Homo sapiens: one gene and its partners. The protein of the gene in region 1 purifies or fractionates together with the protein of each later gene. This does not show direct contact. Each region holds a gene or a part of one and is shown in the gene's direction. Other genes may lie near its edges.

Region 1 (7,085 bases):
CTCTACCAGCCTCTATTTCATTATCCGTACAAGGGGGTGATTACGCCATCTACCTTACTCCATAAATGTGCACTAATTAGGAGTATGCCCACATACCTGGGGCCCCGATCTTCCCTGTCTTCTCTTGGGTGTGCGAAGTGACCACCTGACCCATTATCACCACTCTGTTTCTGCTGGCTGTGGTAGGATGTGTCAGAAGAACCCACACATATTTCCTTAGGATCATTAATTTCTGTAAAATAAAAGAGATCAGGTCTGTAGAGATCAAGATATATGCCAAAAAATACCCCCAACTTCAGCTTGGTTAATGACCATCCACTTTTAGTATAGAACACCAGTATTCTTTAGTGGCTGGGTATGGTGGCTCAGGCCTGTAATCCCAGCTCTTTGGGAGGCTGAGGCAGGTAGATTGCTCGAGCCCAGGTGTTTGAGACCAGCCTGAGCAACATGACAAAACCCCATCTCTACAAAAATTAGCCAGATGTAGTGGTGCGTGCCTGTATTCCCAGCTACTTGTGGGGCTGAGGCAGGTTGATCACTCGAGCTTGGGAAGTCAAGGCTGCAGTGAGCTGTGTTCACACCACTGTACTCCAGCCTGGCAACAAAGTGAGACCCCGTCTCACCAAAAAAAAAAAAAAAAAAGAGAGAGAGAGAGAACAGTAATCTTTAAATGTGTAACAATTTTTAAAGCATTGGCAAAGACTATGTAAATTTCACTTCTAGGTAGATCCTCTATAAAAACTCTTGTACAGGTGCACAAGAAAACATGGACAAAGAGATTTGTTTCTGCGTTTTTTTTTATAAAAGCCAAAAACTGTTAACAACGTAAATGTCCATCCATAGGGGCTGGTTACATAAAACAATGACTTGCTTTTCTACCTTTGAGAAGAATGCACTAGAACTACATCTATCCATAGGGATAATTCTCAGAAACGTATATGGAGTGAAAAAAGCAAGTTTCAAAATAAGCACAGGATACCATATATAAATTAAAAATATGCAAAGCAATACTATACACTGTTTCAGGGCATACATGTATAGAGAAGTGCTTGCAAGAATTCATATAAAATTCTGGACAAGGGAGGAAAGGAATGGGATTAGAAACGGGGTGGGGTACAGGGGAGAAAAGGAACACCAACTCTATGTGAAATGTTTTATTTCTTTTTTTTTTTGGAGACCGTCTTGGTCTATCCCCCAGGTTGGAGTGCAGTGGCGGGATCTCAGCTCACTGCAACCTCCGCCTCCCGGGTTCAAGCGATTCTCATGCCTCAGCCTCCCAAGTAGCTAGGATTACCAGCGCCTGTCACCATGCCTAGCTAATTTTTTTGTATTTTTAGTAGAGACGGGGTTTCCCCATGTTGGCCAGGCTGTCCTCAAACTCCTGACCTCAGGTGACCCACCCGCCTTGGCCTTCCAAAGTGCTGGGATTACAGGCGTGAGCCACCGTGCCCACCCTTATTTATTTTTATTTTTTTTTTGGGGGGGGCTTATTTCTTTAATTAAAAAAGACTTCAAATAAATATGATAAAATGTTACTCATTTTCAATTCTTGCTGGCAAAACACGGGTATTTGTTTTAATGTTCTTTGTTCTTTTGTCTTTTAAAAAATTTCTGAAGCCAGGTGTAGTGGAGCATGCCTGTAGTCCCAGCTACTCAGGAGGCTGAGGCAGGAAGATCTAGCCTGGGTAACATAGTGAGATTCCATCTCTTAAAAAAAAAATCATAAAAAGGAAAATCACATGAAAAGAAACAAAAATAGTGAGAATATCTATGATAACAATAACATGAGCACATTCAAATGAATAATTTTTTTAAAGGTCATTCAAAATTGGCCAATTCAACCGCACTTAACTTTAAGAGCTGTTGTCTGCTGCTTTCTGTGTTTGTGTGGTCTATTGAACAAGACTAAAGGCTGTGCGTGTGGGGACTGGTTCTTAAACTCATCAATTTTGCATAGAATGCCCAGCCACAGGAAGCAACAGATAAATGTTTGTGGAAAAAATAAAGAATAAGCGCTCAATATATAAATATTAATATGTAATTAATAACAAGAGCTACCATTTAATAATGGCCCACTATATGCTGGGACATTTAATTATAATTCTCTCCTTATACTCCTGTATAATTATTCCAGCTTACAGATGAGGAGACTAAGGCTCCGAGAGGTTAAGCTCTGGGCCAACAGCCATAAAGCTGGCCAGCTGCTGAGCCTCAACTTGAACCCAGTGTCAATGGCTCCAAGACCAGTGTCTTTCCACTGAGTAATGCCAGTTCCCTATGGCTCCTCATACAAGGTTCATCTGGACAGTTGATGCTTAAGATATATTTGTTGCCTGGAACACAAATCAGCTGGTTTATTTGTTGCCTGCGTTCAGAAACTGGAACACAAATCAAGTGGTTTTTTAATGTAATCACTAAAAGGTTTCCTTTAGGGCACCAAGTCTAGTGGGAGCAGAAGCTGAAGCCAGGCTTCCTTCTTTCCTTTTTTTTTTTTGAGACGGAGTCTTGCTCCATTGCCCAGGCTGGGGTGCAGTGGTGTGATCTTGGCTCACTGCAGCCTCAGCCTCCCCCTTGGCTCACTGCAACCTCTGCCTCCGGGGTTCAGGGAATTCTCCTGCCTTAGCCTCCCAAGTAAGTGGAATTACAGGAGCACGTCACCACGCCCTGCTAATTTTTGTGTTTTTAGCAAAGACAGGGTTTCAATATGTTGGCCAGACTGGTCTCGAACTCCTGACTTCAGGTGACCCACCTGCCTCTGCCTCCCAAATTGCTGGGATTACAGGCGTGAGCCACCGTGCCTGGCCATGAAGGTTATCTTTCAAGTCCATTCTGGCAAACTTTGGTGAGGGGATCACACACTGACCCCAGAACCAAGTCTTCATTCGGACTCTCTACCCTAGGTCAGGCACTGGACTAGACTCCAAATTCAATCAAGATGTCTTGCCCTGACACAACATGCAGTCTGGAGGGAGAGAAAGCCTTTGATCTTACATAGTGATAGCAATAAAGGGACACATTTAAAGCATCAAAGTTGGGACCAGGGAGAATAGCGTGGTGGGTTAGGGCTGGGGCTCTGGAGACCCAGACTGTCTGGGCCTGAGTCTGGTGGGTTTTGTTTGCTTGTTTGTTTGTTTGTTTGTTTGAGACGGAGTCTCCCACTGTCGTCCGGGCTGGAATGCAATGGCGAGATCTTGGCTCACTGCAACCTCCGCCTCCCGGGTTCAAGCGATTCTCCTGCCTCAGCCTCCCAAGTAGCTGAGACTACAGGCGCCCGCCACCACGCCCAGCTCATTTTTTGTATTTTTAGTAGAGACAGGGTTTCACTATGTTGGCCAGGCTGGTCTCGAACTCCTGACTGACCTGATGATCCGCCCGCCTCGGCCTCCCAAAGTGCTGGAATTACAGGCGTTGAGCCACCGCACCCGGCCAAGTCTCTTCTGTCACTGACTAGCCGAGGGTTATCTGTTTGGTGCAAGTTTTGTAACCTCTTAAGTATGTTTCCTCCTCAGTACGAAATGGCGAGAGAAGCCCCTACTGCAGAGCGTTGCTTGCTACCATTATTATTATTGTTATTATTTGGCTGTGAAGATCGGGTATGTGGTGTGGGAAGGGGGCTGGAGCGCCTAGCCGTGTCTGCCCCTCGCCCACCGCCCTCCCTGGGGGGCAGTCGGCACCTTCCTTGCAGCCCCCTCGGCCTGCGCTCCCGTGGTCACCCGCAGACTCCTCCACGCCGGGCTCCTGCGCGCAATCCAGCTCTGCTGCACCACCTGTCGCAGGCTCCGAGGGCTCAGGGTGCATGTTTACTTCGGCGACACCGAACGCCCCGCAGCTTTGGGGGGCCCAGGTTCGCGGCGGACGTCGCTACGGCCCCAGCCCAGCCAGAGAGTACCCTCTTTCCTTCTTCGCCAGCCGCTGGCGCCCTAGTCTTTACAGCCCAACGCTTCCCCGGTCGCCCAGGCAACCGCTGCGCACGCGCACTCGGGACGGACCGGCGCGCTGGGGACGCCGGGGGGTGGGGGCGGGTCTGAGACGGCTCCGCCCCCGGCGCGTACGCGGGTCACGTGAGGGCGCGGCGCGGCAGCAGCTCCGGCGGCCGAGACGGGGGCGGCGGCCGCGCGGGTCTGGCGGGACCGGTTTGGAAGACTTTGCCGGCCTGCAGGTACCGCGCCCCCCGCGCCCTGGGCGCCCTCTCGCGGTCCTTTCGCCCCAGACCCCTCCTCGGTCCCCTCAGCGCCAGCCGGCTGCTTGGCGAGACCCCTCTGAGCTCTCACCACGCCCCCCAGGCCCCGGGCCCCCTCCGCTGCATCCGGCCCCGAAGCCCCTTGGCGCCCCTGACCCCAGGAAATCTTCGTCCCTCCGTCCCGTGAGACTCCTTCCTTCAGACCAAAAAGCCCCAGCCCCGCCCCTTCACATCTCAGAGCCCCCCTTCCCCCGGCTCCATCCTCACGCCCCCCGCCGCGGCGCTGCACCCCTGTTCTCTCTCTTCCCCCGGGCCTTGCCCCCCAAACCGCGAACCCCGTTGTCGCCGGCGCATGCCCTGCCCTCCCTGCAGCCTCTCACCCGGCTCCTCCCCCGAGCGGCCCCAGCAATCGCCTCCTTTGTCGGTGCTTCTTTATTCTCATTTCTGAACGATTTGGTTTGAGTTGTTGTTGCCGTGTTTTTCTAAAATGGAAATATGCAGCGGTCGTGGGTTCAGCCAGGATTTCCGAGTTTGCTCGTGTTGACTGGGCCTTGCCGGGTGCTGGAGGGGAAGGGCTGGGAAGAAGAACCAGGCAGGTCCCCGTTCTGAACGTGCCACCCAGACGCAGCCCCAGAAACCGGATCGCTGCAGCGCCCCTCGGCGATCCCAACATGATGTGTACAGGTGACTGCGAGGCAGTCGGGGGGTCTCACAGTGGGCTCCCTGGACAGGACTCTGCGCCTTGCTATACCTCCATCTGAATTGCAGGTAGCCCCTTTCTGAGTTGTGGGGTCTTGGGTGTGCGACTTTACATCTATAAGACTCAATTTCCCCATCTATAAACGGGAGAGTCTGACTGCGCTTTATAAGATTAATGAGAGAATAAAGTGAGACAATAGGAATAAAGCACTTAGCAGAGTCTTTTGCATAAAGTGAGCTCTCAATTTTACTCTGACCGCCACAGGAGAGAGAGAGAGAGAGAGAGGGAGGGAGGGAGAGGGAGAGGGAGGGGGAGGGGGAGGGTGTTGATTGATTGATTGATTCAGACAATCTCGCTCTGTCGCCCGGGCTGTAGTGCAATGGTGCCTGCGATCTCAGCTCCTGCTACCTCTGCCCGCCATCCCGCACCCCGGGCCCAAGTGATTCTCCTGCCTCAGCCTTCCGAGTAGCTGGGATTACAGGCACGTTCTACCACACCCAGCTAATTTTTTTTTTTTTTTTTTTAGTAGAGACGGGGTTTCGCTGTGTTGGTCAGGGTAGCCTTGAACTCCTGGCCTCAAGTGATCTGCCCGCCTTGGCCTCCCAAAGTTCTGGGGTTACAGACATGAGCCACTGTACCCGGCCAAGTTTGTGGTTTTAATCACTGCTGGAATATTCTAGGGCAACAGAGTTGAACATATTGGTGCTACTTTTTTTTAAAGTAGGTTTTCAAAAATCGAAATGACTTACGCATGACATAAAATTTATCATTTTAGCCATTTTACAGTGTATAACTCAGTAGTTCTTGCTATAGTCACAATGCTATGCAACCATCACCAGTAACTAATTCCAGAACATTTAATCACCTACAAAAGAAACCCCAACCCCATTAACAGTCATACCTCTTTTCTCCCCCTGTCCCTCAGCAGCCCTAAGTTATCTTCTGTCTCTATGGATTTGCTTATGCTGGACATTTCATACAAGTGGAAACATACAACATACGGCCTTTTGTATTTGGTTTCTGTCCTTTAGCATAATGTTTTCAAAGTTTATCCATGTTGTAGTATGTATCAGTACTTCATGCTTTTTTATGGCTGAATAATACTCCTTTGTGTGGATAACACCACATTTTGCTTATTCATTCATTTGTTGATGGACATTTTGTTTGTTTCTGCCTTCTGGCAGTTGTGAGTAGGCCACTGTGAACATGCAAGCAGGAGTTTTTATGTGAGCAAAAGTTTCTAATTATCTTGGGTATCTGCCTAGGAGTGGGGTACTCTGAATATTTTAATTCTTACTGCATAAATACAGACATGATGGTGAAGAGTGTTGGATCTTGGATGAGAATCCAGGTTTCTAATTCCATGTTGCTGCTCTTTAGGCTCAGCTTCATTGTGCGTTTAGTCCTATACCAAAAATTGGCAGTGAAGGTAAAGACATCCCAAAAAGTCTTGATACACCAATGCTAACTTTGTCATAGTGCTGACGCAGAGTATGAAAAGCTTAAGTTTTTTTCTCAAGAGTGAAATTTGAGCTTTGAACACAAAGCAGTATTTGATTCTGTTTATTAAATAAAGTTGTCTACAGCAGCATGTCAGGTGCTGAGGAGGAATATTAAAGATGTGTGAGATCCGGCCGGTCACATCCCAGTGCTTTGGGAGGCCAAAGTGGGCGGATCACAAGGTCAGGAGTTCAAGACCAGCCTGGCCAATATGGTGAAACCCCCGTCTCTACTAAAAAAGAAAAAAATACAAAAATTAGCCAGGCATGGTGGCACACGCCTGTAGTCCCAGTTACTTGGGAGGCTGAGGCAGAAGAATTGCTTGAACTTGGAAGGAGGAGGTTGCAGTGAGCTAAGATCGCGCCATTGCACTCCAGCCTGGGTGACAGAGTGAGACTCTGTCTCAAAAAAAAAAAAAAAAAAAAAAAGATGTGTGAGATCCCAGCCTCACACCATCACAAAACGCCAGGAGGATTAAAGACTTAAACTGAAAAAGCAAAAATGTAAAATTTCTAGAAAATAATTCGAAAAAATTTCTTCATGACCTGAGGCTAAGGAGGGATTTCTGAAATAAAACAAACCCTAAAGCAGAAAGATTGATATATTTGTCTCTTTCAAAATTAAGACATTCAGCCAGGTGCAGTGGCTCCCACCTGTAATCCCAGCACTTTGGGAGGCCAAGGCAGGTGAATGGTTTGAGCTTAC
Region 2 (7,108 bases), on another chromosome or scaffold:
GACTTGGAGCCCATTTTGTTTTTCCTGCTACTTTCCTGCTTGGTGTCTTGCCTTTGAGGTGATGTTTTCCTCAGACCCCTCTGTGTCCTTCTTGCTTCCTGGGGGACCTTTGTGGAACTAGAAAATAGCTGTTTACTAGCCTGGAGCAAGGAGCCTGAGTGGTGAGCCGGCTGCATAAGGAAGGCACAGCAGCTCATGCTTCCCTAATGCTTCACTAAACATGCAAGACACAAAAGGACCCAGAGGGCTCCAGCAAGGGTCTGGGGACCGAACGTCTAAGCTTGGAAACTGGCTGGACTTGTATGGGTAAAACCAAGAGTTTTTGTCTTAGCTCTCCCGCCTCACAGCTTTGAACTGGGGGTGGCTCTTGGTCTGCATTTCACATGCACGGCACCTGGAGAAGTGCTGCTAGCCCTGGCACCTCTGTGGGGTTCTGGCCCTGGCGGAGACTTTGCCGGCCACGGCTTCTCCAATAGGTTGCTGGTGGCATCTCCAGCAATTGGTGGTCATTGAGTTGGAGAAGAAGAAAAGAAAATGATAAATTGGGATTCCTTTGGACAGCTCCTGGAGGTCAGGACATAAGTTGAATGCCCTCTTGGTGGCTTTGTGGTAGCAGCTTGGATTGTAATATCCAGCCCCGAGCAGAGATGCCCGGTGTGTGTTCTTAGGCTTCAAGGGGCTTGGTCCCTTCCTGGCCCTTCCCCTGGAGGGCTGTTGTTGGGAGGTTGGGTCCACAGAAATTTAAGTCCCCAGGGCCTCTTGTTTGGGTCTGAATCCTCACCATGATAGGTCCTCCTGTGTTAACCTGTCTTACTAGACTCACTGGCAAGTCTTGTTGGGGGGACGACTCATTGGCAAGTTTGGGTGAAGTTTATCATCCATATGTCCAGTTCCGAATGTGAGGTGGAGGCCTGGGAAGTAGCTGGCGGGAGGATAGGTTTGGACTGAATCACAGGGTTCTAACTGGGATGCCTCAAGGTACAGAGGGTCCTGTCCTCAGAGCACTAAGAGGGCCATTCTCTGGGGGGGGGGGCGGGGGGGGGGTGTTGTCACAGAGTTTAGTGTCTTACACCTCTAGGGCACAGAGGGTCCTGTCCTCAGAGCACTCAAAGGGCCATTCTCTGTGGGGTTTTCGTCACTGAATTTAGTGTCTTACACAATAGAATGCTGCTGACTGTTTTAGGATGATGCTTTAAAGAGCCTTGAGCAGATTGCACAGCCTAAAGTTGATACTCTCTTTTCCCTTTCTTATAGTCGAGTAATCCTGCCTGTGTCTGTAGATGAGGTAAGTCCTTTTACTTTCTGGTCCATAGTTGTGTGTAACTGTTTGTGACCATTGGCTAAGCTGGGCTCTGAGTGGTTATCCTGTTTATATAGTTTTCTTATTTGTTCTAACATAAATATTTCAATGTGAATTTCGTGGTGCCACTTTCAGTTGAAAAATGGCACTTACTTTGTATATCTGGGTAACTGTGTGCAACCTGTCCCAAGCTGTTGGTATGCTGGATGAGTAGAGATTAAACCAGCCCCTTTTATCTGCTGGGGCTGTGCATGTCTGGGGACCCTTTTTTTTTTTTTTTTTTGAGACGGAGTCTTGCTCAGTTTCCCAGGCTGGAGTGCAGTGGTGCGATCTCCGCTCACTGCAACCTCTGCCTCGTGGGTTCAAGCTATTCTCCTGCCTCAGCCTCCCAAGTAGCCGGGATTACAGGTGTGTGCCACCACACCCGGCTAATTTTTATATCTTTAGTAGAGATGGGCTTTCACCATGTTGGCCAGGCTGGTCTCAAACTCCCGACCTCAAGTGATCCGCCCGCCTCAGCCTCCCAAAGTGCTGGGATGACAGGCGTGAGCCCCCACACCCGGCCGGGGACGCATTATTGATGGGATCAAGTGTGTGCATTTCTGGGACGTCCGTGACTCGGCTGGCAAGTGTGCGTGGCTCTTTCTGGTTGTGCAACAAACCAGCAGGGCAGGAAATCTCTTGAGGCTCTCCCTAGCCACGATAGGTGACTGCTGGAAAGACCAAGACACAGAACCCTCCTTTTACGAAGGGCAGGGAATAACACATAGGCTTGGCTTGTCCTCTGTCCTTTTACGGTTCCTGGGTCTGACATCCTTGTATGTGGGGATCTGGCAGCAGGATTTGCTGTAAGAAGGTTCATAGGCCATGCTGACTCAGAGTCAGTCTCTTGGACAACGGAAAACTGTCACGGAACCTCCCTTGTCTCACTCTTTCTCTGAACTTCTTCCACTCTCCTCTCCTGGCGCAGCCTTGTTCTTTGCTTCCTTCTGAAATCACAGCCCCACCCCGCCCCAGCTTCCAGTTAAACTCGAGTTTGGGTGAGGTTCGTCAGCCAGTATAGTGCCTCCAGTCACTGGGCTCCGTCTCTCTTTCCTGCAGTGTCAGCATGAAGCTCCTGTGATAACTTCCACTCTGTTCCCAATATGAACTGCACCTTTGAAAAATGAAATCAGGCCAGCAGAGCCTGCAGCACATTTAGTTGAGACAGACATCCAGGCTTGTTGGCCCCCGAGAGGGGTGGGCAGACACTGGCCCTTTAGAGGACTGCCTCCAGGGGTGGGCTACATATCTGATAAGAGCTGTGGGGACCTGGGGAGGGGGCCAGAGGTGGGCCTTGACCGTGATCTTGGGGTTCTGGGAAGGGCAGAAAAGAGAAACGAGACTGGGGAACCTGGGAACCAGGGAGAATGAGGGAATGGCTGGGTAGATGGCTCTAATCCCTGTAGGCACTGGGGATGTACCTGGGGCCTGAGAACCAGGTGCCTGGGCTGACAGGTGTTGGCTTGGAAGGGTCTTGTTAACCCACCTGCTTTGGCCATGCTGTCTTTATTTTTTTTATTTTATAATATTTATTTTAAATAGTGGAGATAGGGTCTCACTCTGTTGTCCACGCTGGTCTTGCCTCAAGTAGTCCTCCTGCCTCAGCCTCCCAGAGTGCTGGGATTACAGATGTCAACCACTTCACCCAGCCTGTGCTGTCTTTATTGAAAATAGCAAGCGATGATTTTCCAAACCAGAAGGCCAAGCAGGAAAGCCCAGCGCGTCCCTTGCCCTCAAACTCAGCTCTTGGGGAGGTGTCCAGTGACGTCCTCTCTGCTGTACAGGATGATCCCACCCCGATCGTTAGGAAGATGTGCCCCAGGAACTCGGGATTTCCTTAGTGTGGTGATTAGGGGTGAAATGGATCCTTTGATAGGGAGTTTCTTGATGGAACGAAGGGCGAGAGTGTCTCTGAGAAGTGCTGCAGACCAAGGAGGGCCAGCCTGTCCTGGAGCACCTGGGGCTGTTCTTGGAGTAAGGCTGAAGGGCCAGACACTGATGGCTTATGGTGGGGCCAAGACTGGAAGGAAAGGGGAACTTCCACCTTGAGAGCATCCACAGTTGGCGGGTGTTCACTTGTGATGGTTTTTCTGCAGCATTGAGGAAGTGGTGGGGCGGAGTTGAGTAATCAGAGCCTGAAGTCTAAGCAGAAGCTTGGGAAGTGAGTGCTGATCAGGATTCACCTGTCTGCCTGGCAGTGGTCAGCCCGTTCTCAGCAAGAAACCATTGACAAGAAAGTACCACGTGGCCTGGGTAGGGTCGAAGCGGAACTTAGTTTCAGAGAATTAGAAAAATCTTGGAGGGGAAGGCCGAAGAAGAAACAATTCATGATCAACCTTCTCAGAGTCTTTGTCAGTAACCCCATCCCCATCCTGACTTAACAGTTTCTATGGGAACAGCTCAGCATCTTGTGACTGGTGGATTCACTTCCTAAATTGGAGGCCATGACTTGAGGCCTTTGCAGTTTTCTGATTTAGGGGAAAGTGAAGAAAGGGAAAGAGAAGGTCATGCCTTTGTAATCATTCCGATGGCCTGCATCAATATTTTGGGGGCAGAATTAGCTTCTGGGTGGCCAGAGCCTTTGGTCTAACCCTGAGTGTCTGGGCGTTGTGCAGCAGAGCGAGAAAGCCCTGGCTGTTTGACGGGGTGTGTCCACCAGTGCTTCCTGGCACAGGTCGGCCGGGCTGCTTCACTTCTTGTTTCCAGAGATTCACGGCACCAGTCCCCCTCTGGTACCCAGCCTGACAGGGCCATGTTGGTGGGACCAAAGCTGTACTGTTGTTTATGACGTGTTTCATGTCAGTATTTCAGGCCCACCCACTGGGCTCCCCCTCCCAGATTGCCAAAGTTGTGGAGTCTGTTTTTCTTAGTTGAATGTCTTAGTTCTCTGGGATAGGTGAACAGATCTCAAGAGCAAGGAACATCATCGCAGGTCTGAGGAGGCTAGATTCCCAGTCCTGTTGGAGTTTTTTAAATCTGATTTAATGATCTGACCCTCCCACTCCTATCTCTGCCCCATCCGAGTCTGGCTGCTTTCCCAGGGGGCAGAGCAGCTGTGCCAAAAGGAACTCTAACGTGAAAAGCGCCCTTCACTTGTAGCTTGTGCAGGCCAGTCTTGCTTACCCCTTTAGATTAACAAAACTGCCTTCACTTGTCTCATTGGGATTAAAGGATCAGAATATCAAGAGAGATTGAAGGGGGAAGATGCCAGCCAACAGGCTGATCCTCTTAGAACCTGCCCTCTGATTCCTGCAGCTGAAGAGAAACCAAATGAAGGCGATTAGTCTCTGCCTGGGGTCCCCCTTCCCAAGTGGTACCACTAGCTGGGAACCTCGCCCCCTCCACCAGGCCCTCTCCCCAGCCTGTCCTTTAGGATTGCTGAGTCAGTGGTTAGATGTTCTTACGGCTCTTCTCTGAAACGGAGTTACTGCTCCTTCTTAGGCACCCCTGGCTCAGCCAAGCCCTGACCCACCTGACGGGTTTTCATGTGTGCCTAGCTGGGTGGTGGACTTGGAGAGGCACAGGGACAGCTTGGGGCTCCAGGGGGGCATTGAGGCAGCACTGATGCAGCTTAGGATTAGCAAGGTCAAGGTGACTGGCTTTCACCCATATGTTCCTCTGTATGGATTTCACTGAGCCTCGATTGCTGCCCCTTTTCATGGCATTTTGTTCTGGGATTTTGCTTTGAAAGTTAGGGCTCTTTCAGCCTTGTGGTGAGCAGTGAATTGTCCTCGTCCTCTGCTTCACTTTCCAGATTTTGCCCAGAAATTTCCCTGCAGTGCTTAGGAAGCTGCCTGGTAGAGCAGGTTTCTAAGTTTGAGGCGAAGCAGCTCTGGAAGCTGCCTCTGTCCTTGCTGTTGGAGGCAGTGATTTAAGTAGCAGTTGCCTAGAGATACATCCTTTCTGTTTTAATCTCAAAGAGAGAAAAACCCAGTCCCTGTAATCCCAGCTACTTCGGAGGCTGAGGCAGGAGGCAGGAGGCAGGAGAATCACTTGAACCCAGGAGGCGGAGGTTGCAGTGACCTGAGATCGCACCACTGTGCGATCTCTGTCTAAAAAAAAAAAAAAAAAAAAAAAAAAATAGAGAAACACCCTTGTCTTCCCCCCGGGGGTGCCAGGAGTTGGGCATAGAGCTCGAGGAAACCCTTTGTCCCCCTCCACCCCCCAGCATGTTGGGTAATCCCATAGCTTTTTTCCTTTTTCTCATACTCCCTAAGCAGCCATGCCTGATTAGCACCGGCAGCGGTAGGAAAGACACATCCGTTGGTGTAGACATAATTTCCTGCCTCAAATGTTGCTGTTCATTTTCTTTTCACCTTGTTTTCTCCTCTGGACAGCTTCTCAGAGAAGAAGGCGGAAGGGCTAAGTCTGGGCACTGCCTAGGTCATTGGCCCATCCTGACAGGGTCAGAGGAGGCCAATCATGTTGACTGGTGACTTGATAGGGTGGCATGTGACCCAAATAAAGGAAAACTAGGTTTTTGCCATGTAGTAAGTGCCAACACAGAGGGTGCACCCAGCCGGCACAGACTGTGGGGCAGGAATCTGTAATATCTCATGTGGGAAGCAGGAATACTTGCTTGGCCCCACCAGGAATCTGGAAAATGTCAAGAGGTTTCATTGCCTGAAAGAGCTACTTGCGGGGTGAGGAGAGGCCTAAGACTAGAGAAGAAGCGAGTAGATGAGCCAGTTTTACGATAGAGGTTGCGGATTTCACAGAGCGCTGAGCACCTTTCTTTGACAAGAAATCAAGTCTTAGGATCTATTTAAATGGGTGAGATCCAGTGATTTCTAGCAACCAACCTAGGTCTTCTGGGGTCTTAATACCAGAAGCAGGCTTAGCACAAAAGCTCCTTTGGACTCTAATCTGTTTTCTGCGTGGTGGTGTCAGGTTAAGTAGACTCACCTGCCTCTTTAAATCCTGATGGATTGACTGGGAACGGTGGCTCATGCTTATAATCTCAGCACTTTGGCAGGCCAAGGTGGGAGGATGGCTTGAGACCAGGAGTTTTGAGACCAGCCTGGGCAACATAGCAAGACCCTGTCTCTACCAAAAAAAATAAATAAATAAAAATAAACCCTGATGGGTGGTGTGAAAATGAGAAGGATGAACTAAACACGTCTGATGGGTCAAGAGGGGCCATGGAGCAGCACTGTCAGTTGCTTTGGGTGGGTTTGGGCAAGGCCTGATGTGAAACTCCAGAACCAGCTCCTGCATGAGGAGACCCCAGGGAGATCCAGTTAGACACTTACTGGCAGCTGGATTACGTGTAACCGTTGAGAAGGGTCCGTGTTGAGAATAACATCTGTCTCTGTCCTTTAGTATCAAGTGGGGCAGCTGTATTCTGTGGCTGAGGCCAGTAAAAATGAAACGGGTGGTGGCGAAGGCGTGGAGGTCCTGGTGAATGAGCCCTACGAGAAGGACGGTGAGAAAGGCCAGTACACACACAAGATCTACCACCTGCAGAGGTATGCGGCATGAGCAGCGGGGCCGGATGCTGGCTTTTGTGTGTGTGTGAATGAGTGTTATTTCCTTTATTGTTTTATATAGATGGGATTATACTAATTGTTATATCCTAACAATTAATAGTTATATACTGACTGTATAAATGTTATACTCACATTTATATAGATGGGAATATACTATTCCTTTTTTGTTGTTACTTATCATGGCCTCCTCTCCCAGCCTGTTCTGTCTGCCTCGGTCTCTGAAGTCCGTGTAGGATTCACAGTATCATGGGGGACAGAAGTGCTATAGGTTGTTGAA
Region 3 (7,108 bases), on another chromosome or scaffold:
AACAGGGAAGTCAGTGGCAGAGCTGAAACAAGAAGGCGGTAGGGTTACCTTGTTCCATCTCAGCTGGGAACTTGTACTTTGGATGACCCGCTCTGGTTTGCCTGCTCTGCTCATTGCATGTCCTGAAAGTGCTGCAAGTATGGATTTTGGGGCTACAAATTTAGTGAGCAGGTAAATGAGCAAATAAGGAATCCATGAATAATGAGGATCATCTGTATATAATTTTAGATTGTCAGTTTTTTCATAACTTTAAAGGCGTTCATTACCTTTTGGATTACATCAATGAGAGGTGAGGTCATTCTTATTGTTGTTTACCTGCTTTTTTCCTCTGACTGTTTTTAGGGTTGTCTCTATCTTTGATTTTCAGTTTGACCCTTATGGTGTGCCTTTTTGTGGTGTTGTGTTTATTCTGCTTGGAGTACATTGAGCTTTGTGGCTCTGTTGGTTGGTATTTTCAAAATGCCAACTTCTGTCCAATTTTAGGCCATTTTTTCTTTTTTTTTTTTTTTAACTTCTTCAGTCTTTTTTAAAGAGACAGGGTCTTAACTGTGTTGTCCAGGGTGGAGTGCAGTGGCGTGATCATGGCTTGTTACAGCCTCAAACTCCTGGGCTTGAGTGATCCTCCCATCTCAGCCTCCTGAGTTGCTAGAACTGCACGTGTGCACCACTACACCGGCTAATTTTTAAGTTTTTTGTAGAGATAGGGTCTCACTGTGTTGTCCAAACTGGTGTCCCAACTCCTGGCCTCAAGTGGTCCTCCCACTTTGGCCTCCTAAAGTGTTGGGGTTACAGGCATGAGCTCCCATGCCTGGCCACTGTTGCTTTTTTTAAGGGGACTGCAATTATAGGTATTTTAACTCCTTGATTGTCTCTCAGCACTGAGGCTCTGTTCCTTTTTTCACTTGCCCTTTTCCCTTGTTGTGTTTCAGTTTGGATACTTTCTGTTGTTGTTTTTTAAGTTTGTTTATCAATAAATCTTTTTTTCTGTATTGTCTAATCTGCCTTTAAGCTCATCTAGTGATTATTTTCAGTTAATATAATTTACAATTCTAGCATCTCCATTTGGTCCTTTAGTCTATATTTCTCCACCAAGATTCCCTGTCTACTCTATATGTCTGTCTTTTTCTGTACTTAATATCTTAATAGCTATTTTAATTTTCATTTTAATATTTGCTAATCCAGGCCAGGTGTGTTAGTTCACACTTGTAATTCCAGCACTTTGGGAAGCTGAGGCTGGCGGATCACTTGAGGTCAGGAGTTTGAGACCAGCTTGGCCAACGTAGTGAACCCCGTCTCTACTAAAAACACAAAAATTAGCTTGGTGTGATGGCAGACACCTGTAATCCCAGCTACTCAGAGGCTGAGGTGGGATAATTGCTTGAACCTGGGAGGTGGAGGTTGCAGTGAGCCAAGATAGCCCCGCTGTACTCCAGCCTGGGTGACAGAGCAAGACTCCGCCTCAAAAAAAAAAAAGTGCGAATCCAACGTCTACGTTATTTGTTTGTTTATATTTGCTATTCTTTCTTATTTATGGTCATATTTTCTTGCTGCTTTGCATGTCCATTAATTTATTTTATACTGCATGTCATGGATTTGGTGGTTTTAACTTTGTTCTGGCAGGCAGTTAATTTGCTGGAAAATCATTTTGATCCTTTCAAGTTTTGATTTTAAAGTTAGGGTGGGTCTAGAGGTAGGGGTCTGCAGACTTACAGGGCCAGTTAGAGTAAATAGTTTAGGCTTGTGGGCCATACAGCCTTTGTCTAAACTGTTCGTCTCTGTTTTTATTGTGCAAAAGTAGTTATAGACAGCACAGAAGTGAATGGGCGTGGCTGTGTTCCAATACAATATGGGCTCATGAGCCATGGTTTGCTGACTCTTGGTCTAGAGTATCCTTTAGGCTTAGAGTAGTCCTGCTTGAGGTGTTTAGAGAGATCTTTCCTTTCTGACTGGTCAGAATTTTTAGATCAGGTCTTCAGCACTTTCTGACCTTCGATATAATCCAGTTAATTTGCAGCTCTACCATAGGTTTCTTGGCTAGGCCTTGCCGAGTCTTGTGCTGTGCACATGCAGCGTAGTATTCACCCAGAGGTTTAAGAGGAACCCCTATCCAGATTTTTGGAGCTCCTTTTCTGTGAGGCTTTACTTTGTATGTTACCCTGTCTCACAAATTCCAGACAACTCCTCAGCCTCCTCAGCTTAGCAAGAGTGCGGTATTCTTAGGCTTCTCTCTGTACTGTAGACCAGAATGTGCCTTCAGACAGAAAGCAGCGTAGTCATCTTGCAGGTTTCCCTTTTCTCAGGATTCACACTGCTGTCCTGCCTCTTGTCCAGTGTCTCAAGATAGTTGCTTCTAGTATTTTGCCCATATTTTTAGTTGCTTATATTGGAAGAATTAGTCTGTTGTAATTACTCTCATAGCCAGAAGCAGAAGTTCTATGGTTTTAAAATGCAGGTTTTTTGTAGTATTGTAATTAGATATGATTTAAATGCCTCTTTTCTCGTATGTGAAATGGGGGTAACAGTAGTACCTACCTTACAGGGTAGTTTTGAGAACAGAATGAACATCTGAAACAAATGTGCCGGCTCAGCACAGTACCTGTCCCACATTAATGTTTCTATAAATGTTGTTACATTGTAAAATAGAAGCAATTGATCAATGCAATATTTCTGCTAATTACAAGGTATTTACTGGGTGACGATTTACCTTGTTTCAGGAGAACTAACTTGAGGGGCTGATACAGTAAGAAGGATTGCACCAGTTGCACTTGTACATAAATACATCCTTCAGAAGATGAAGCACATCTCGTGCTTTGAGGAAGCCTAGCCAAAAAATAATAATAATTATAAAGCACAAAGACTTGGGAATTAGATGTTTTGACCCTCTGGCCTCCTAGTTCTGTGACTTAGGGCAAGTTGTTTCTTCTTTTTTCTTTCCCTCTCCCTCCTTCACAACATTTTTAGGTGGGTACTCTTATTATCCTTATTTTACAAGTTTCATTAGGCACAGAAAGGCTAAGAGTTACAGTTGTAAGTGATGGATTTGTGATTTGGACTTAGGCAATTCAATTTCATGATCTGTGATTGCTTTATTAGGAGTCTGAACTGTATTCTTGAAGTCCCAGAAGATAGTTAACTATTCTGGATTTTTTTAAAGAGCTTTTAGAAATGTAGTACTTGTTTTATGGGTAACTGGATCGAATCCCATTTTACAAAATGAAGATTTTTCTTTTTTTCTTAAACATAATGAATCTTTGAAATACCAATTTGAAAACTTTTTTACTTAGAAAAATTCCAGGAATATAGTTTTTATTATAAAAGATTATTGCACTAGGTAGGAATAAGAGTACAGTACATTAAAAAAATACTTTAAAATTATGGCACAAATTTAGATGTAGTTTGTTTTCCCACTAACTTTAACAGTAATATATGTTTCTAGTTCACTTTCCAGATAGACTAGCCTCTGAATTAGTGGCTTTTAACTATATTGTCTAGATAAAAAAGACAACCATTTTGTTAAGAATTGGTTAACTGTTATTTAGATGGAGCAGCTGCGTAATTATTTGGTTCTGCTCTTTGACCCTCAAATTTCAGTTTTATACAAGCTAATAATTCATTATTTTAGCTGAAGGGAACTTTCCTTCATTTTACAAATGAGAAACTGTAATTTAAGATCACATAGCAAGTAATCTTTTAAATATGTGTACACATATATATGCACTTTATTTAAAAATCTTATAAGCCATTATGTTACCCCTTTGACTGGATAGCCCATCCTACCTAGTGCTCTAGGTTGGAGGAAACCCTTTTAAACACACATCATAAATTTCCCGTCATCACCCTCATCTAGGAATCCTTTAAGTATGACTTCATGCCCAGTATATATTTATCTAAAATATATAAGACCTTGTGAAGTTAGCTCTCCTAATTCATTAAGGGTAATATGCTTGGAAGACAAGTCCGTATTCATGTTAGCTACATTTCTTGGATTTTTATCTGTTTTGATCAGCCTTGTCTAGCTTGTCCATCCAGATGAAATTGTCTAAATTTATTAGGTTCTCTCTGTTAAAGGAATATCACCTTCCAGTCATCTCTCAGGCTGTTTCAAATTGTCTGATGGTAGAGGCCTTTCTCTAGTGTAAACCATGGAAGATCTTTAGCTTAGGATCTCCCAACTGCAGGTACAAGATGACATTGTACAAAGTTAATATTACCAATATAGAGTGTATTAGTTAGCTTGGGCTGCCGTAACAAAATACCATAGGCTGGGTGGCTGAACAGAAATTTACTTCTCACAATTCTGGAGGCTGGTAAGTCTAAGATCAAGGTGCTGGCAAGGTAGATTTCTTTTTGAGGCCTCTTCTCCTGGCTTATAGGTGACCACCATCTCACTGTGTGCACACATGACCTCTTGTGTGTGCCTGGGGAGACAGGGAGCATGACAGCAAGCTCTCTGGTGTCTCTTCTTGTAAGGGCATTAATCCCCTTGGCCCAGGGCCCCACCCTGACTGCATTTAACCCTAATCACCTCCCAAAGTCCCCATCTTCAGATACTATCACTTTAGGGGTTGGGGCTTTAACATGAGTTTTGTAGGAAATATAAGCATTCAGTTCTGTAACATACAGTGATTAAGGAAATGGGCTCTGGAATTGAATTGCCTTAGTCTCTCACTTACTAGTTGTGTATACAAATAACAAGTAGCCCTCACTTAGGTTAATTTTAAGCAAAACCAATAATGGTGTCATCCTAAAGGCAGTTAATTTTTTTTTTTTTTGTATTTTGGACTCTGGCATTTGGACATTGGCACAGGACTAATGTCTTCAAAGAGCAATGTACAATGACTGTAACAACTTAGAATGTAAGAGAAAATGCATAATTCTTTAAAAGTGTTTCTTTAAATTGAATATATGCCAATAACAAAAGATTAAACATTTGTAGTTGTTAATTGTATTCAAATTCAGCTTTTTGTTTTTGGCCTGAATAGAACAAGACAATTTACCTATGTGAAAACCTGAGTGAAAGCTTGGGATGTGATATGTTAAGTAGAACAGTATTTTAAAGCCACTTTGATTCATAAGTTTCTTTAACATAAACAGGTTGTATTGCCTCTTGAAAAATGATAGGTTCTATGGATAACATTTAATTAGCTTTATAATACATATGATGATTTAACCTGAATTAATGGTACTACTTTTTCTGACTTCCTTTTGATCTTGGCCCTTTCTCTGTAAAGTTTTTTGTTAACTTATTACAAACTGAACCCTGGCTTGCTCCTCTTATCTTTAGTCTCCTTTCAATCTGTCTTTATTTCTGCTGAGGTTATATTCTATTTGTTTTTCAGATGAGACCCTTTTTGCTCTTCCTGCTGCATCTGAGCCTGTGATACGCTCCTCTGCAGGCAAGTTCTTTCTGCCAGCCTTTTATCCTCTCTGTATTCTAACTTTAACTCTTTAGTGTGTTAACACTATGCAGAGTAGTTTGGGTTTACTAAAAATTAGCATGGTTCCGAGAATGTTTTGTCTACTGGAAAAGTTGAAATGTGCATTTTATATGGTATGCCCAAGGGAAAAATGAGCAAAATCTGATGAATACTTGGAAGTACATAAGGAATTCTTGGACCCTTGAATTACATTTACATATTTACCATTCCCTTTCTCCAAATACAGTTTGAGTATAGCCAGAAAGGCTTTCCTGTAAATAAATACCAGTCTATGGCATTTACCCAGTGCCCCTTCTTTCCTATGCTGTCACCGAAACTCTTTTCACAGATATTCTTCTCTTCTCTAAAACTAGCTATTAGTATCTTAGTTGATAACATTTGAGGTTTACTCAGACTTGATTTGTCTTTGCACAGCATGTAATTGCCTCTGTAGCCATGCATATGTTATATTTACAATAGCTTAATATTTTCAGTAATGATTGAAGTCTACTCTATTGTTACTTATTAATTGCTATTAACATTTCATTTTAGTAAACAGTAAGTCTTTACTAACACTATTTTGGATCTGTCATAAAACTTGCATTAACTCTGAGAACACTGGCATTCTCTAACTTTCCTTTCTGTCCATGGTCACAGAAAATATGGACTTGAAGGAGCAGCCAGGTAACACTATTTCGGCTGGTCAAGAGGATTTCCCATCTGTCCTGCTTGAAACTGCTGCTTCTCTTCCTTCTCTGTCTCCTCTCTCAGCCGCTTCTTTCAAAGAACATGAATACCTTGGTAATTTGTCAACAGTATTACCCACTGAAGGAACACTTCAAGAAAATGTCAGTGAAGCTTCTAAAGAGGTCTCAGAGAAGGCAAAAACTCTACTCATAGATAGAGATTTAACAGAGTTTTCAGAATTAGAATACTCAGAAATGGGATCATCGTTCAGTGTCTCTCCAAAAGCAGAATCTGCCGTAATAGTAGCAAATCCTAGGGAAGAAATAATCGTGAAAAATAAAGATGAAGAAGAGAAGTTAGTTAGTAATAACATCCTTCATAATCAACAAGAGTTACCTACAGCTCTTACTAAATTGGTTAAAGAGGATGAAGTTGTGTCTTCAGAAAAAGCAAAAGACAGTTTTAATGAAAAGAGAGTTGCAGTGGAAGCTCCTATGAGGGAGGAATATGCAGACTTCAAACCATTTGAGCGAGTATGGGAAGTGAAAGATAGTAAGGAAGATAGTGATATGTTGGCTGCTGGAGGTAAAATCGAGAGCAACTTGGAAAGTAAAGTGGATAAAAAATGTTTTGCAGATAGCCTTGAGCAAACTAATCACGAAAAAGATAGTGAGAGTAGTAATGATGATACTTCTTTCCCCAGTACGCCAGAAGGTATAAAGGATCGTTCAGGAGCATATATCACATGTGCTCCCTTTAACCCAGCAGCAACTGAGAGCATTGCAACAAACATTTTTCCTTTGTTAGGAGATCCTACTTCAGAAAATAAGACCGATGAAAAAAAAATAGAAGAAAAGAAGGCCCAAATAGTAACAGAGAAGAATACTAGCACCAAAACATCAAACCCTTTTCTTGTAGCAGCACAGGATTCTGAGACAGATTATGTCACAACAGATAATTTAACAAAGGTGACTGAGGAAGTCGTGGCAAACATGCCTGAAGGC

What was found.
Region 2: the proteins of HSDL1 (region 1) and PITPNA purify together in Homo sapiens (co-immunoprecipitation; 2 studies listed by BioGRID and IntAct, with this or other methods). This does not show direct contact.
Region 3: the proteins of HSDL1 (region 1) and RTN4 purify together in Homo sapiens (affinity purification with mass spectrometry; 2 studies listed by BioGRID and IntAct, with this or other methods). This does not show direct contact.

The regions. Positions count from the first base shown.
Region 1 is NC_000016.10:84,142,154-84,149,238, reverse strand, and holds the start of HSDL1 (inactive hydroxysteroid dehydrogenase-like protein 1), read left to right. Parts: upstream 1-4,061; 5' UTR 4,062-4,159; intron 4,160-7,085. Other genes in the region: DNAAF1 (dynein axonemal assembly factor 1), read right to left, coding at 97-232, 3,675-3,798.
Region 2 is NC_000017.11:1,552,706-1,559,813, reverse strand, and holds part of PITPNA (phosphatidylinositol transfer protein alpha isoform), read left to right. Parts: intron 1-1,254; coding exon 1,255-1,285; intron 1,286-6,664; coding exon 6,665-6,810; intron 6,811-7,108. UniProt on the Homo sapiens protein: Catalyzes the transfer of phosphatidylinositol (PI) and phosphatidylcholine (PC) between membranes. Shows a preference for PI and PC containing shorter saturated or monosaturated acyl chains at the sn-1 and sn-2 positions.
Region 3 is NC_000002.12:55,026,452-55,033,559, reverse strand, and holds part of RTN4 (reticulon-4), read left to right. Parts: intron 1-5,339; coding exon 5,340-5,396; intron 5,397-6,074; coding exon 6,075-7,108. UniProt on the Homo sapiens protein: Required to induce the formation and stabilization of endoplasmic reticulum (ER) tubules. They regulate membrane morphogenesis in the ER by promoting tubular ER production.